Homo sapiens: one gene and its partners. The protein of the gene in region 1 purifies or fractionates together with the protein of each later gene. This does not show direct contact. Each region holds a gene or a part of one and is shown in the gene's direction. Other genes may lie near its edges.

The links.
Region 2: the proteins of SNRK (region 1) and ARCN1 purify together in Homo sapiens (affinity purification with mass spectrometry; one large-scale study listed by BioGRID and IntAct). This does not show direct contact.
Region 3: the proteins of SNRK (region 1) and ABHD5 purify together in Homo sapiens (affinity purification with mass spectrometry; one large-scale study listed by BioGRID and IntAct). This does not show direct contact.
Region 4: the proteins of SNRK (region 1) and NUP160 purify together in Homo sapiens (affinity purification with mass spectrometry; one large-scale study listed by BioGRID and IntAct). This does not show direct contact.
Region 5: the proteins of SNRK (region 1) and CPVL purify together in Homo sapiens (affinity purification with mass spectrometry; one large-scale study listed by BioGRID and IntAct). This does not show direct contact.

The regions. Positions count from the first base shown.
Region 1 is NC_000003.12:43,289,534-43,293,055, forward strand, and holds part of SNRK (SNF-related serine/threonine-protein kinase), read left to right. Parts: intron 1-206; exon of another isoform or gene 207-256; intron 257-3,522. UniProt on the Homo sapiens protein: May play a role in hematopoietic cell proliferation or differentiation. Potential mediator of neuronal apoptosis.
Region 2 is NC_000011.10:118,578,892-118,582,413, forward strand, and holds part of ARCN1 (coatomer subunit delta), read left to right. Parts: intron 1-2,354; coding exon 2,355-2,618; intron 2,619-3,522. UniProt on the Homo sapiens protein: Component of the coatomer, a cytosolic protein complex that binds to dilysine motifs and reversibly associates with Golgi non-clathrin-coated vesicles, which further mediate biosynthetic protein transport from the ER, via the Golgi up to the trans Golgi network.
Region 3 is NC_000003.12:43,700,920-43,704,441, forward strand, and holds part of ABHD5 (1-acylglycerol-3-phosphate O-acyltransferase ABHD5), read left to right. Parts: intron 1-1,295; coding exon 1,296-1,668; intron 1,669-3,522. UniProt on the Homo sapiens protein: Coenzyme A-dependent lysophosphatidic acid acyltransferase that catalyzes the transfer of an acyl group on a lysophosphatidic acid.
Region 4 is NC_000011.10:47,779,975-47,782,362, reverse strand, and holds part of NUP160 (nuclear pore complex protein Nup160), read left to right. Parts: intron 1-1,915; coding exon 1,916-2,020; intron 2,021-2,388. UniProt on the Homo sapiens protein: Functions as a component of the nuclear pore complex (NPC). Involved in poly(A)+ RNA transport.
Region 5 is NC_000007.14:29,070,023-29,073,544, reverse strand, and holds part of CPVL (probable serine carboxypeptidase CPVL isoform b precursor), read left to right. Parts: intron 1-1,079; coding exon of another isoform or gene 1,080-1,121; coding exon 1,122-1,244; intron 1,245-1,640; coding exon 1,641-1,772; intron 1,773-3,522. UniProt on the Homo sapiens protein: May be involved in the digestion of phagocytosed particles in the lysosome, participation in an inflammatory protease cascade, and trimming of peptides for antigen presentation.

The DNA.
Region 1 (3,522 bases):
GAGTGAGCACTGGAACTGTGTTGTCTGCTCTGGATAATCCAGAGCTACGTCATTGATCCTCATCTGCTTTTCTGCACATCTGCTTTGGGTTGTGGCTCTGTGTCTCATGGGAAACCATTTCTTGCTGGTGGTAGGGAAGGAACCTGTCTAAAGAGGATTCCTGCTTTGCCCTCCCTGAACATTTATTTCTCTGCTGTCACTTCCAGAGCCTCCTGAGAGTCTGCTTTGGCATCCCCAGCATTTGGCCTCTGCTCAGGTAGGCTGTTCCATGGCAAATCAGGCCTCTTTCCCTTTCCTTTTGCTATTATGCCCCCTAGTCTGCTGCCATGTGGCTACTCAAAAGTTACTTCAGACTCAGAGATCATTAGTTGTTCATCTAACATGTTTTAAGTTTTGGAGTATCTTCAGGCCCAAAGCAAGATTAGGTCTATCTGCACATCTAAACACATACCCTCTTGACTAATATTTGCCTGGACCGTTTAATGTAGGTTATGACAAAAATGCTCCAGGAACCTGGATTACACAACATAACGGTGGTCAAATCGCAGCCTCACTGGGCCTCAATTTCTTAATTGTTGACCTGCAGTTATCTCTCTTAAACCCATAATACTGTCAGCTCTTTGAAGGCAGAGACTACTTCTTTGATCTGTACATTATCAGACCCAAGTAATGCCGGGTACATAGTCTGTACCAAGAAGTGTCTTGGTGAAGAAGGTAAAAAAATCTAATCTTTAATTTGTTGATTTTATCAGCTTGTTATGGAAACCACACCCTTTCTAATAAAGCTGGGTTGGATTTGAATTGTTTTTCAATCATACAATTTTAGAACTAGAAGCAAATCCTCTACTTTCTGCTAGCATGTTGTAGATGTTCCTGTCCTGAAAGTCCAGTCTGAGAGAATGGCATCACCAGCTACCACTCTCCGCTAGAGTCATTCTGGATTTCTCCCTTTGCTTAGCCTCCTGTGCATTGAGTTCTTGGATTCTACTTCCAAAATGTGTCTCCTCCACAACATCCTTATCATCACTGCCCATATACCAGCTGCCCTCATTTTTAAGTCTTTAAGTAATTTACCTGGAGACATTTTCAGTTGTCTGCTTACCTGTCTTCTAGCTCTATTCTCGCCCTTTCAGTCTGATCTTCACTTTGCTGCCAGAGTAATTTGTTAAACCATCATCTCTGATTGCCATTCTCCTGCTCAGGATTTTTCTTGAGCTCTTGTTTTTGGCTCTTTATGCTAGCCTTCATTTGTTCATTTAATAAAATATATCTGTATATTTTGAGTAGATGCTATACTTGGCAGACCCTGGGATAAAGAACTAAATAAAATGAACATGATCCTTATGTGAACTGAGCCTGTCATTTAGTTTAGTGGGGGACACAGATTATTAACCACACAGTCACACAAATAATTATATGACCTCACATTTGTGATAAGGGTCATAATGGCAAAGGACACAGTGCTGTGAGTGAGTATAGGGAGCTGTATGTGCATGGAGTTGGGGAGGGCAAGGGGATGGTCAGGAAGTCGTCCTTTAAGCTGGGCCCTAGAGCATGGGTAAGGGCTAGCCTAGACCTAAGAAGTAGAAATTGATGAATTATATGGAATACATGCCTGACCTTGTCCCCTGCGCTCTGCATATATTGTTGTCTGAGTCATACTAAACTTCCTTGGGCCTCTTTCCTGAAAAGCCTCTTCCTTACCGTTGCCAGTTTCAGTTCTTAGCTCAAACACACAAAATTTATTTCTCCAGAATGCTGTCTGTGGCATTCTCCAAGGCAGATTTAGGAGAAAAGAACACCTCTTTTTGCGTATCTGTTCCCGTAAGAGACTGTGAATAAGTTGAGACAGAGACCTTCCTAGTATCCAGTACAGGTGTTTAGGGGCCAGTTTGTTGGGCCAATAGAGGATGAGGTTACTGATAAGAAAATGAGATGGAGAACTATATATACAACCCCTTTCAAATACTGTAATCTCATGGGAGGGAGGCCAGTTCTAAAGTTAGGGGGATAAAATCCTTAGGTGATTTGTATTCTACTCACACCCTGCTAATATATATTATCCCATTTAACTTTCACAATAACTGTCCAAGGTGGTGATTATCTTTATTTTATCAAGACATGCCTTTTCATAGAAGTTGAGTAACTTGTTGGGCTGTAGATCCTGTGGTACTCTTTCCACTGTGCTGTCATGCCACTCTGCATATGTGCTTAATAAATGAATTCTGATCATTCCTGAAGTGTACCTCTATGGTGAAGATAATAAGAAAAGTTAACTATGTGGTACTTTGAAATGTGGAATCTTAGGACTGTTATCCTAGCTCCTCCTCTGATGTTCCCTCGCCCCCAGGCAACTCTTAACTGGGTGTAGGACCTGGACAAAGTGAGTTTGTAACCTCATTGGCTTGGCCCTGCTTTTTCATTTGTAAAATGGGTATCACTCTTAAGGAATTAAATGATATAATGTAAAAAGTGCAGTACATACATAGATTCCTAGAAATTAAAATCTGTTTTCTCATTTTGAGACCTGCATTCAAACAAAACTGGAATTCTAATGGCCAACTGAGGCAGCAAAAGACATTTTAAAAATTAGAAATAAGACAAAAATCCATGGTTTTGCTTTACTCGTTTCTGTATAAACCTGCTTAGGTTACTAATAGATTTTTAGTAGTATGTATATGGGTGATAACGAGAGAGATCTATTAAGCCACAACAAAAATGTAGTGTTTTATGGAACTTTGTAGTGAACAATGAACTTTTAAAATTTGTTTGAATTCTCTAATAAGCTTATTTCTGTGTTGCTTTCATGTTAATATGTAAAGGATTTTCCTCTTTCATTGAGGCTCTTTGATGAGAAGCTTTTCCTGTGCATTTTTTATTCTTTAATGACGCTTTGACTAAACTTAAGTATAATTCAAACACAGATATGTGGTGAATTAGTTAGTATGGCAAATTTTCCATTTGTTTTGTCCAGCACGGTTGCTTAAATGATGAGCCAGTAGGTATTCTTCAGAATCAGCTGTAGGTATTCTTCAGAATCAGCTGCCTCTCTTAAAATTTATCTGACTTCCACTCCCAAATCATCACTTCACCTAAACTGGTGTTCTTTCCTAAGCCAGCCAGCTGTAGGCACTCTTACTTTGTTTCTTGTTTACCCCACTTTCAGGAATGGTGTTCCTCTACTCCTGTTGAAGGATAAGCCCTGGTCTGTGGGCTGCACCAGTCCTTGGTGAGCCTGCCATCTATAGTGTCCTCTATTCTTCCTCTGACATGCCTCACCTAGGCTCACTTGTGTAATTATTTCTCTTTTTATATGGGGATACTATTTTCTTTTCTTTTTTTTAAGTACTGGGATACATGTACAGAATGTGCAGGTTTGTTACATAGATATACATGTGCCATGGTGGTTTGCTGAACTGTAGGTCCTGTTTTCCTAAATCATTTTTAAGATTTGAATGGACAGGGACTGTGTTGTGTCCTGTACAGTTAAGGCTCAAATTATTTGTTAATGAAAATGACTTA
Region 2 (3,522 bases), on another chromosome or scaffold:
TTTTTTTTTTTTTTTAATAAAAAAAGAAAAATCCATTACCTTGAAGTGGCATAAATTTTTTTCATGAGATGCATGTTTATTATTACTAATGGTGCTGTTTTACATCATGAATATATGTGCTACAAGTTGTATAGCACTTCTGAAGTACAGTTTCATTATAGTCATTTGGCCCTCATAATAGCTTGTAAGGTCATTAGATAATGCTGCATTTTATAGGAAAAGAAACGAGGTTAAGAGAGGTTGGGTAACTGAAGGTCAGGCAGATAGTAAATAGAAGAACAAAACTAGAAAATAGATTTTCTCACTCCCAGTCATTTAGTTTTTCTAATATCAGCTTGGTTCTTTGCAAATTTGGGACACTAGTTCTAAGTCTTTAGGAAAAGGAGAAACCAATGTGAAATGATCCCAAATATAAGGGAATTCCCTACTTTTCTGATGAAACTATTAAGAAGGAAAGCTTTTTGCCAATTGTATAAACTTTTTAAAATGCAGCCAAAATAGGCCGGGCGGTGGCTCATGCCTGTAATCTCAGCACTTTGGGAGGCCGAGGTGGGCAGATCACCCGAGGTCAGGCATTTGAGACCAGCCTGGCCAACCAACATGGTGAAACCCCATCTCTACTAGAAATACAAAAAAAAAAAAAAAAATTAGCCGGGCGTGGTGGCAGGCGCCTGTAATCCCAGCTACTCGGGAGGCTGAGACAGGAGAATCACTTGAACCTGGGAGGTGGAGGTTTCAGTGAGCGGAGATCTTGCCATTGCACTCCAGCCTGGGCAACAAGAGCAAAACTCCATCTTAAAAAAAAAAAAGGTAGCAAAAATAGTCAAATATGTTCTTAAAATAGTTAATAATTCACTTATATGTATATGTTTTAAATAAATAAAGTTTAATTTAGAAATAATTACTTTTTTCCATTTTCATATTAATAAAACAATTTTTTCTAGATTCTTTATGAACATCATGTCATCACTGGGGCCACTTTTTGAATCATCAGTTTGGTATTTAGCAGTTTTGAATCCATGTGTGATATATTGGCAGTTTGGGAAATTTTATCCCAAGTCATAAAAACCCATTTATATAATATTAGGATAGTTGCTTTTAAAAGGAATATTTTGTAACTGATATTCAACACATGAAATTGTGAGTTCTGGCTAGGCGTGGTGACTCATGCTTGTAATCCCAGCACTTTGGGAGGCCAAGGTGGGCTGATCACTTGAGTCCAGAAGTTCAAGACCAGCCTGGGCAACATGGTGAAACCCCACTTCTACCGAAAATACAAAAATTTGCCAGGCATGATGGCACCTGCCTATAGTCCCAGCTCCTTTCAGGGGGCTGAGGCAGGAGGATTGTTCAAGCCCAGAAGTTGAGGCTACGGTGAGCCAAGATTGCACCATTACAGTCCAGCTTAGGTGACAAAGTGAGACCCTGTCTCCAAAAAAAAAGAAAGAAATTGTGAATTCTGATCCTCAGGATAATTACTAAATCCAGTGACCTTTTGTTAGTACTACATGCAAAACTAGCGTAGTTTGAAGATAAGATGTATCCCAGACAATTATTTTAGTTCAATATAAAGTCATTGAGGGAGCACCTTTAATATGAGAGACTATGGAAGGATTCAAAACTACACAACTCTTTTTTAAAAATATATAAGTATTCCTTACATAAAAATATATTACCATGATAGCATATTTTCACACCTAAAAAATTAGCAATAATTTTTAATATTATCAATTATTCAGTCACTGTTCAAATTTGATTTATACATTGTGATTGATTGACATGTCTAAGTCTCTTAATGTGTTTGTATTTTTAGTAGAGATGGGGTTTCACCATGTTGGTCAGGCTGGTCTCGAACTCCTGACCTCAAGTAATCCACTCGCTTTGGCCTCCCAAAGTGCTGAGTTTACAGGTGTGAGCCACTGTGCCCGTGAAAGTCAGTATTCTATTACTTGTCATGTCAGCTGGTCGTGGTAGTTCACGCCTATAATCCCAGCACTTTGGGAGGCCAAGGCAGGAGGATCGCTTGAACCCAGGAGTTCAAGACCAGCCTGGGAAACATAGCGAGATACTGTCTCTACTAAAAGCTTTTTAAAAATTAGCGAGGCTTGGTGGCACACACTTGTAGTCCCAGCCACTCAGGATTTCTTGAGCCCAGGAGTTTGAGGTTGTAGTGAGCTGTGGTCTTGCCATTGCACTCCGGCATGGGTGACAGAGTGAGACCCTGTCTTAAAAATAATACTACTACTAGTCATGTCACTAAATAAATATGTCATTCTATGGAACATTTCCTGAGATGCTGAGAAAACAGATGTGAAGAAATAATTAGTACTTACTTATGCATATGTTCCTGGCAGGTGCTGTTGGCAGCAGCGGTCTGCACAAAAGCAGGAAAGGCTATTGTTTCTCGACAGTTTGTGGAAATGACCCGAACTCGGATTGAGGGCTTATTAGCAGCTTTTCCAAAGCTCATGAACACTGGAAAACAACATACGTTTGTTGAAACAGAGAGTGTAAGATATGTCTACCAGCCTATGGAGAAACTGTATATGGTACTGATCACTACCAAAAACAGCAACATTTTAGAAGATTTGGAGACCCTAAGGCTCTTCTCAAGAGTGGTAAGAGTACTGCTATAATACTGGGTTCCACTTTTTGTTTTACATTTTATGTGAAACTAGTTTTTCCTCCAAAGCAGCTGATGCTAACCAGTTTGCAGGTTCCTACTCCGCACCCCAGCGACTTATTGCTGCAGCACCTTGTTTATTCAGCAGACATTTATTGGGTGTCCTCTTAGACTATAGATGTCTCAAAAGAATATGGGAACTACTGTTTCATTTCCCAGTTCTTAAGCAGTTGTTCTAATCTGCCGTTCTAGTTCTGACACTTGTTTGGCTATGCTTTTTAGGTAATGTTTTTTAGGTAAGACTTACTGATCCAGAGACAGACACACACACACACACCCCTCTTCTAAGACTTTATGCCAAAGTCTTGCTTAAAATGAAGACTTAGGTAAGACTTACTGATCCAGAGACAGACAGACAGACAGACACACACACACACACACACACACACACACCTTTTAAGACTTTATGCCAAAGTCTTGCTTAAAATGAAGGCTAAGGCCAGGTGCGGTAGCATGTGCCTGTAGTCCAAGCTACTCAGGAGGCTGAGGCAGAAGGATTGCTTGAGGCCAGGAGTTCAAGTGCACAGGCATTATACTTTAGTGTGGGCAACACAGCAAGACCCTGATTCTTTTTTTTTTAAAGACGGAGTCTCGCTCTTGCCCTGGCTGGAGTGCAGTGGTGCAATGGTGCAATCTCGGCTCACTGCAACCTCCACCTCCCAGGTTCAAGCAATTTTCTGGCCTCAGCCTCCCGAGTAGTTGAGATTACAGATGTGCATCGCCATGCCTGGCTAATTTTTGTACGGGGTTTCACCATGTTGGCCAGGCTGGTCTCGAACTCCTGACCTCAGGTGATCTGCCTATCTTGGCGTCCCGAAGTGCTGGGATTACAGGCATGA
Region 3 (3,522 bases), 410 kb from region 1:
TGGGTAAACTTGCTCTCTACAAAACTAAGAAAGATGTCATTGTGATTTACCAAAATAAAAAAATTCTTATCAGGAGGTAAAAAAGGGGTGCTAGATTCTCAATTCATGCATTTAACAGACATAATGATTCCCTTCCTTTTGGTTCTAGGGATGCAAATAGGAATGTGAATTGGTCTCTGCTTTAGTGTCAGACATGAAAGTAAGCTACGGTGGAGTGAGTTCTCTAATAGTTATACAGATGGTTTTTATGGGAATACACAGACGTATGTGTTCAAAATGCTGAAGTGGTTTGGCTTGGCACTTAAGCCAAAGCAGCCCCTTTTCTAAACTAGTGGTATTTCCCCCAACTTGAGGGCTTGTGCTCCATTAATATTCTGAATGAATGTTAGGTTTCTTCTTTGCTGCCACTATGTGGATACAAAACATGATATTATTTCTTTGGTTAAAAGGCAGAAACTCCTGTTTCTTCAGTGTCTTGTTTACTGTATATGAATATGCATAAATAATTAAGGGGTATATCAAAAATGCAGCTGTTCAGTTGATAGTTAAATATAAATGATTTCAAATTTAATTTCATTTTTAGGCAATTTTTGGGAGTGTTTAAAGTATTTAGTTCCACAACATTAAAGGTAAAAAAGAGTTTTGGTCTATAAAATTGTGACTATTTGCTTTTTCTAGGAGATTACTAGAGTTGGACCCAAGTTACCTGGTGTGTCATGCTGAGGAGTTCCTACAATACTTTGTCAACCTTTTTTTGAAATGACTTAAGGTTTCACTTACATGTTTAACATAGATACCAGTAATCCTTCCCTAAATTCATGACTACTTTTTAAGGAAAAATGATGCCTTTAAGCCTGACTTCAACTCAAAGTTAACCAAAGAATACCACCTTGAAATTGTAGAACACCTGACAGTATTCTACAAATTCTCTGCAAAGCTAGAGACCTTAAAATAATGGGTTCGGTAACCACTAAGTTCCTTTTCACTTCTAGGAGTATAATACCCTCATTTGACAGATGTGGAAAGAAGTTAGAAGGTAATATGACTTGCCAAAGACCTTGATCACAGGTTACTTGAGGTTTGTCTGAGGTAGGTCTTCCCCTTTAGGTGTAAAACATGGTCATTTAGGATTATTTACTTCAATAAAATGTGTACTTTTTAAAAATAGCTGACAATACAAGCTAAAATCATGAGATTGGATACTAGATGATTTGTAATTTTTGGTTGCTCTGAGAATACTTCCCTTCTCAGAAGTAATAAAATGAAACAGAATTTCTCTTTTATGTTTTCATTAGGTGTGCCTTGCACATACAAAAAAGAACCTGTTCGTATATCTAATGGAAATAAAATATGGACACTGAAGTTCTCTCATAATATTTCAAATAAGACTCCACTTGTCCTTCTCCATGGTTTTGGAGGAGGTCTTGGGCTCTGGGCACTGAATTTTGGAGATCTTTGCACCAACAGACCTGTCTATGCTTTTGACCTATTGGGTTTTGGACGAAGTAGTAGACCCAGGTTTGACAGTGATGCAGAAGAAGTGGAGAATCAGTTTGTGGAATCCATTGAAGAGTGGAGATGTGCCCTAGGATTGGACAAAATGATCTTGCTTGGGCACAACCTAGGTGGATTCTTGGCTGCTGCTTACTCGCTGAAGTACCCATCAAGGTAAGTGGTGGTGACAGAAGAGAGGGATTATAACTGTGCTTCCAAGTACCAGACTCTAGTTCCCATCTTTGGTGGTTGTTAGTGTCTGAGCCACAAGGCAGACATTCTCTTAAAGGACCCTATAGACCACACCACAACTGATGACCAATATAGTAGCTGAAATAATCATGTCAGATCTTCCTATTACACGTACTACATGTTAATAGGCTTGGGAAAGGGGTTTCTATTTGTTAAGCTTAGAATTGTAGAAACTTTAATGTATAATTTTAAGCCACAAGTAAAAATTATTTATTATTATTATCATTAAACCTATGAATCCAGCAGGCTTCGTCTAATGTTTTCTAAGTTATAGTAAGCTGTAAGGGGAAACCAGAAGGTTAGAAGATGTAGGTACTAGTGCTAGCTCTATGACTTAGAGCAAATCACTTAACCTCTAACCTTTAGTTTTCTTTTACCTAAACTATAGAAAATACAACTTCATAGCATATATCCCAGGGTTTTTTATTATACCATACCCTAACCTTTCTCATTATAAAACATTGAATTAATGAACATTTGCTTCAAAGTCTTTCTAGCATCATCTCCTTTCTTTAACTTTTTTTTTTTTTAAGAGATAGAAGCTCGCTCTGTCACCCAGGCTGGAGTGCAGTGACATGATCTCGGCTCACTGCAGCCTCCGCCTCCCAGGCCCAAGCAATTCTTCTGCCTCAGCCTTTGAATAGCTGTGACTACAGGTGCATGCCACCACACTCAGCTAATTTTTGTAGTTTTAGTAGAGATGGGGTTTCGCCATGTTCGCCAGGCTGGTCTCAAACTCCTGACCTCAAGTGATCCACCCCCCTCGGCCTCCCAAAGTGCTGGGATGACAGACCTGAGCCACTGCACCCAGCCCCTTTACGTTATTTTTAAATGCTATTTACTGTCATTCATGTTACTACTCTGAGAGAGGGTCACATTTAAGTGCTAAGAAAACAGGAGAAAAACTCATCTTTGTTTTGATCATCTTTTGGAAAGAAACAACAAAAAATGAATACAGCATTTTTGTGTTGCCAGTGTATTTTTCCATTGGACTGATTTTTAAATCCAAAATTGCAACTGATTTTGACTTTGAGGTCCGTGAGTGAGACATGGGATGATGGTCATTTCAGAGTGCCTGTATGTACCTATAAGATCTCCCCATTGCATAACTCTGGGTGTGTGTTCAACACAGAATTTGATGTGTGAAGCAGCAGCCCTGTGTACCTGAGGTTCTCTTCCTCTGGAACAGCCACTTTTTCTCTATAGACTCTTTATCTAAACTTTAGCATTTACACCTGATTTTTCTGATCTCATGGTCCTATATGTGCTAGACAATAATAGTCCTGTCAACTGGCGGACCTGTTCTTTAAAAAGAAATGCAAATTTTCTTCTCCTGGTTGGCATTTTGGGGTTACTTTCTTTATTTTCTTTTTTTTTTTTTTTTTTTTTTGAGCCGGAGTCTCACTCGGTCGCCCAGGCTGGAGTGCAGTGGCGCGGTATCTCGGCTCACCGCAACCTCCGTCTCCCAGGTTCAAGCAATTCTCCTGCCTCAGCCTCCCGAGTAGTTGGGATTACAGGAGCCCGCCACCACACTGGCTAATTTTTGTATTTTTAGTAGAGACAGGGTTTCACCATGTTGGCCAGGCTGGTCTCAAACTCTTGACCTCAGGAGATCCGCCTGCCTTGGCCTCCCAAAGTGTTGGGATTACAGGCATGAGCCACCGCACCCGCTGGTGTTACTTTCTTTTATTGTGTCCTACTCTTAGTGACAAACACCTATTTGCATTTATGGTGAAAGGAGAAGGAAGTAGATGCTTTTCTGGTACAAGTCAACAG
Region 4 (2,388 bases), on another chromosome or scaffold:
GGCGCATATATATATATATATATATATATATATATATATATATATATATATATATATATTTTTTTTTTTTTTTAACTGAGTTTTGCTCTGTTGCCCAAGCTGGAGTGCAGTGATGCAGCCTCCACTTACTCCCTCACTGCAGCCTCCGCCTCCCGGGTTCAAGTGATTCTCCTGCCTCAGCCTCCTGAGTAGCTGGGATTACAGGCACCTGCCACCACATCCAGCTAATTTTTTAATATTTTTGGTAGAGATGGGGCTTCACCATGTTGGCCAGGCTGGTCTCGGAACTCCTAACCTCAAGTGATCCACCCACCTCGGCCTCCCAAAGTGCTGGGATTACCCATGTGAGCCACCATGCCCGGCCTAGGCATTTCTTTTTATTATCATGCTATGTAAGGTGAGAATCTGAGAGTAAATTGAACTATATGTTAGTGTATTTAACCTTTACTATCTGTAGTTATACAACTAAATATTGACACTCTAGGAATCTCTAGTCTCCTGTTTATAAAATAGGAATTTCATCTTTCTCTATCAAAATAATATGGCATTAGTTAGGATTCAGTGGAGAGAGATAAACAAAATGGTATTGTGTGTGTGCCGGGACTGTGTTAAGTCTCTACAAGCATTTTTTTATTTAATCCTTATAGCAGCCTTATGAAGGAATGTTTTAATTTTCTATTTTTTAACCCATGAGGGAACAGGCTCAGAGGTTATCACAGGCTCATACAGATGGCAAATATAATAGAAGAGCCAGGTCTAAATAGGTGTAGTTAACTACAGCTTCAACCCTCATGAAATCAGCCAGGTGCAATAGCTCACACCTGTAATCCTAGCACTTTCGGAGGTCAAGGTGTGAGGATCGTTTAAACCCAGAGGTTAAGACCAGCCTTGGCAACATAGTGAGAACCTTTATCTACAAAAAATAGAAAAAAATTAGCTGGTCATGGTGGTGCGTGCCTATAGTCCCAGCTATGTGGGAAGCTGAGGTGGGAGGATCACATGAGCCCTGGAGGTTGAGGGTACAGTGAGCTATGATCATGCCACTACACTCCAGCCTGAGTGACAGAGTGAGACCCTGTCTGAAAAAAAAAAGAAAGTTGACATGAAATTATTTTTTATTTTTATTTTTTTATTTTTTCCAAGACGGAGTCTCGCTCTGTCGCCCAGGCTTGAGTGCAGTGGCATGATCTCGGCTCACTGTAACCTCCGCCTCCCGGGTTCAAGCAATTCTTCAGCCTCAGCCTCCCGAGCAGCTGGGACTACATCTGTGCCACCACACCTGGCTAATTTTTGTATTTTTAGTAGAGACGGGGTTTCACCATATTGGCCAGGCTGGTCTCGAACTCCTGACCTTGTGATCCGCCCACCTCGGCCTCCCAAAACGTTGGAATTACAGGCCCAGCCGACATGAATTTTTAAATATATTTAACCGAAAAAAATGACAAGTTTCCCAGTTGGAGAAAAGAGGGTTCCCATTGTGTGCATGCACATGTATACACACAGTTTCTTGTGGTTGGGGGAAAAAATGCATTTTATTTTGCCGGGCACAGTGGCTCACTTTCGGAGGCCAAGGCAGGTGGATCACTTGAGGCCAGGAGTTTGAGACCAGCCTGTCCAACATGGTGAAACCCCATCTCTACTAAAAATAAACATAAAAAAATTAGCTAGGCATGGTGGTGCACATCTGTAGTCCAGCTACTCAAGAGGCTGAGGCACAAGAATTGCTTGAGCCCAGGAGGCGGAGGTTGCAGTGAGCTGAGATTGTGCCACTGCACTCAGCCTGGGCGACAGAACAAGACCATCTCAAAAAAAAAAAAAAAAAGGGTATTTTATTCTACAGAGTCCTATGAAAGCAACTACCCAGAAGAAATGGTACACTTTGCAGACTGTTTTCAAATAAACATTTTCCTTTTAGTTTCCACTGTCCGCAACAGCCCCAATGGTGTGGCTTCCATACTCCTCTATTGATCAGCTTCTCCAAGCTCTGGGAGAGAACAGTGCCAACAGTCACAACATCGCAGTAAGTCAGCCCTTTCATGAGACGTCTTGTGTAAGCCCCTGCACTAGCAGTTACACCTTACAGCTTGATCTTCAGTTCTCCGGGATTAGAAAGGGAAGACAAAAGCCTATTTTTGGCCCTTAACAAACTGCCCAGTCCCTTTATAGATAAGGCAGAGGATCTAAGTAACAGGATCAAGAAAACATAATGAGGAACTGTGTAAGTGTTAATTATACAGAGACAAATGGCAAGCAGTCGGTCCATCCTTTAAAGCTTTTAATTTGGTAGGGCAGACCCTACAAGGTAAACAGGTACTTGAAATACAGCAATGATAGGCCGGGCGCAGTGGCTCACGCCTATAATCCCAGCACTTTGGAAGGCTGAGACGG
Region 5 (3,522 bases), on another chromosome or scaffold:
GAACCCAATGGGCTGGAAAGGAATGAGCGAGAGGGTGGCAGGGGTTGAGGGTAGAGAAGGGAGCAGATCATGTCAGCCCTTATGCCTTTGCTTTTGGGAAGATGGGAAGTCATTAAAGGATAAGGGCAAAAGAAGGAGGCCAATGAGGAGTCTACTGCAGTCATCCAGGCCAGAGATGATGTGATGGAGAAGGGGTTGTGAGAAGACATTGGACTCTGGACAGATTTTGTTAGAATAGGTAGAGCTGACAAGCTTGGCTGATTGACTTCTGTGGAATACGAGACAAAGAGAGATATAACGAATGGCACCAAGATTGTTGGCCTGAGCAGGGGAGAAACAGAATTAACATGAGATGAAAGGGAGGCTGCCTCAGGGTTGGGGATTGGGAGCTTTATTTTGAACATGTGCAGTTTAATATTAGACATACAAGTGGAGATATCAAGAAGGCAACTTTTGATGGAAAGAATGCAAAATGCAAAATTATTTGAAAAATACTGCTGAGTCAATAGTAGCTCTTCCAGCACAGTCTTAAAGTAGAACCGTTACCATGTTTGTTAGGGGAAATATATCTACAAAATATTCTGACCTTGAAAAAGGACCTTGTGCTGGAAAAGTTTGGAAATAGAGATGAGTTCAAGTGAAAATTTTAGTGGCCAATAAATATTATTTTCCTTTTCTGCTTCTCCTATTCCTTTAGTACATGTTGATTTCAAAATTTGCAGCATTATCAGATTTTGAAATCTTAATTTTAAACTTGAGATTTTTTTCCCTCTAATCTTTGAATAGAGCTTTCTGGTAAGAGATGCCTAACACATGGCAGAATTGTGTTCTCCCAAGTTATTTTATTTTGGAAGGAAATTAGAATGTTCACTTATTACATGTTCACTTGTGATTTTTTGTGCATCGAACCTGTTCATGTCATGTGGTGCTATTTGAGACGACAAAAGAATTGGAAGACAGAGGTTTTTGCTATTATGGAATCTATAATGTGGGGTTAAGAAACAGATGGTATACCTCATGTGGAAAGATTGCTCCTTCATTGTTATTTTAATTAGCTTAAGTACATTTAATTTTACTAGCATCCATTTGTGATTGGCCATTTCAACATCTGTCCTTCTCAGTCTTATGCAGGGAAATATGTGCCAGCCATTGCACACCTCATCCATTCCCTCAACCCTGTGAGAGAGGTGAAGATCAACCTGAACGGAATTGCTATTGGAGATGGATATTCTGATCCCGAATCAGTAGGTTTCTCCTTCTGACTTTCTATTTTGTCTCTTAGGGGGATTAAATGCCTTTTTATCAGATGGAAGGCTCCTCTTAGAGGTCTAACTTTTGATAAGGGAAACACCAGTTGACTTTATGACTTAAATCTCCTAATTTTTACCAAATGTTTCAACGTATCAATTTACTGTGTCAGCTTACATTGGCTGTCAGTGCAAATGTGTGTGTGTTTGTATTGTGTTGTGTTCTGTTGTGTGTGTTGTGGGGTGTATATGTGTGTGTGCATGTAATTATCCTACTTGGCTAACCAGCACAATATTAACAATTACAAAGGATTATTTCACCAAGCAAATGGGCTTCCTTAAGGTCTCTTTCTCTCCCTTTGTCACATTGATGTGTGTCTTTTTTGTCCTCAGATTATAGGGGGCTATGCAGAATTCCTGTACCAAATTGGCTTGTTGGATGAGAAGCAAAAAAAGTACTTCCAGAAGCAGTGCCATGAATGCATAGAACACATCAGGAAGCAGAACTGGTTTGAGGCCTTTGAAGTGAGTTCTGGGGGCCCTGTGCTGCCCTTGAGCAATTAAAACCATCTGGGGAGGGAGGGCGGGTGAGCAGGAACACCTTGGTGCTCAGGCATTTTTTTGTTAAGAAGGTATATCTGTTATTCCATTGGAGATCGGGAGGCGAGTTGAGTGGCCTCATAATGAAGAAAAGGACTGTCTGTGTTCCTTTGAATTTACTTTGGCTATATTTTAAGCCTGAGATCATCTTGGAGTGTTTATCTAACTGTGTCTTTCATTAACCGTTTTGATTTCTTTAAATGCTGTGGAGGCCCTCAAGGCAGACTCTATCATATGGAAATCAGAAGAAAGGCAACCCAGGAAGTAGAGGCATATGCTTCACCATCTGCTCTAAACCATGTAGAAGAGTTTTATATCCACAAACAGGGTTTCAGCTGGGAGAAATGACCACAGTGTGTAACAGATGACATGTGACACACGTGTCAGGAACAAAGATTATAAAGTGTAGTAATTTGAAACTCTTACAAAGGGCCATTGGTATTTGTGCATATCCTTTCATTGCTCCCCTAAAATTAAACTTGAGAATCAATAATTACGTTCTTCACTCTTTTCTTTCTCAGTTATTTAAAATGTAAGAATATACTAAATATTAGGATACAGGAAGTTGGGTTTTTTTTGTTTTTTTTTGCTTTTTTTGCCAATGCAGACAGAGCCATGTGTAAACAATCTCCCTGAGGGGCTTTTTGCCGTATTTACTATACAGCCATCATGTTTGACATGGTAGTAAATGAGGCAAGGTCTGAATTTCGAGGGCTTTAATTTGTTTGTTATTAGACACATATTCTGTAACAGTATATCTAATGTCGTTATTGTTATTAAAGCAGAAATCTGATATTAAGTCTTAAGGGCATTGCAGATCAGCCAGTTCAGATCAAAATAGGAGACATGCAACCTTGGAGAAAAGGGTAGAGGATAATACAAAGTTATTTTTCATTTTACAAGTAGGGTGTTGGGACACTATCAGAAATCCCCCAAGGCAGTGACCGCCCTTGCCGTGAATTCTGATAGCAGCTAGCTGTGCAAATGGATGGAGCAAAGGGAGTCCTGAGCCATCCTACAGAGCTCCACCAGGCTCTCCTTTCTCTGTGTCAGGACACTAAATGTGGCTGCAAAGTGTGGATTCAGAATTTCTTATGCAATTGTAAACACAAAGGAAGAGGGGTCTCCTGGGGCACATGTAGGATCATGCTTCCACTTGCAATGACAGTATTTTCAAGGCTTTCTGCTGTGGTAGTCACAGAGGGGACGAAGGAGTGAAACTTCAGTATTTAGAATTAATACCAAATTTTATGTGGCATGAGACCAATTTGCAATTGAAACATTTGATATGTTTTTAAAGAAGCACACAGGATAAAGCAATTGTCAAGAGCAAGAGCATTTGAGAGGCCCATATTTAGAAAAAAAGCAGAAAGATGACTGGTACATAATGCAGCAGGCTAAACACCTACAGGATTAGTGAAGCTGTAGAAAAGTTCAGGTGTGTTGTGTATTCAGAGATAATGAGAACATGACCCACGAGGTGAGAATCTCTCCCAAACCGGATACGTCAGAAACCGGAACCCCAAGCAGGTAAAACGTTTGAAGGCTTGGAATGTCTTTTTGACCATTGGTCCCGTATCTTGAGTGATGAATTAAAACAAGACCTTTGCTTTTTCAAGGAAAATAGATAAAATGATACTTAGGACAGTAAACAACTTGTGGTTGAAATGTGTTT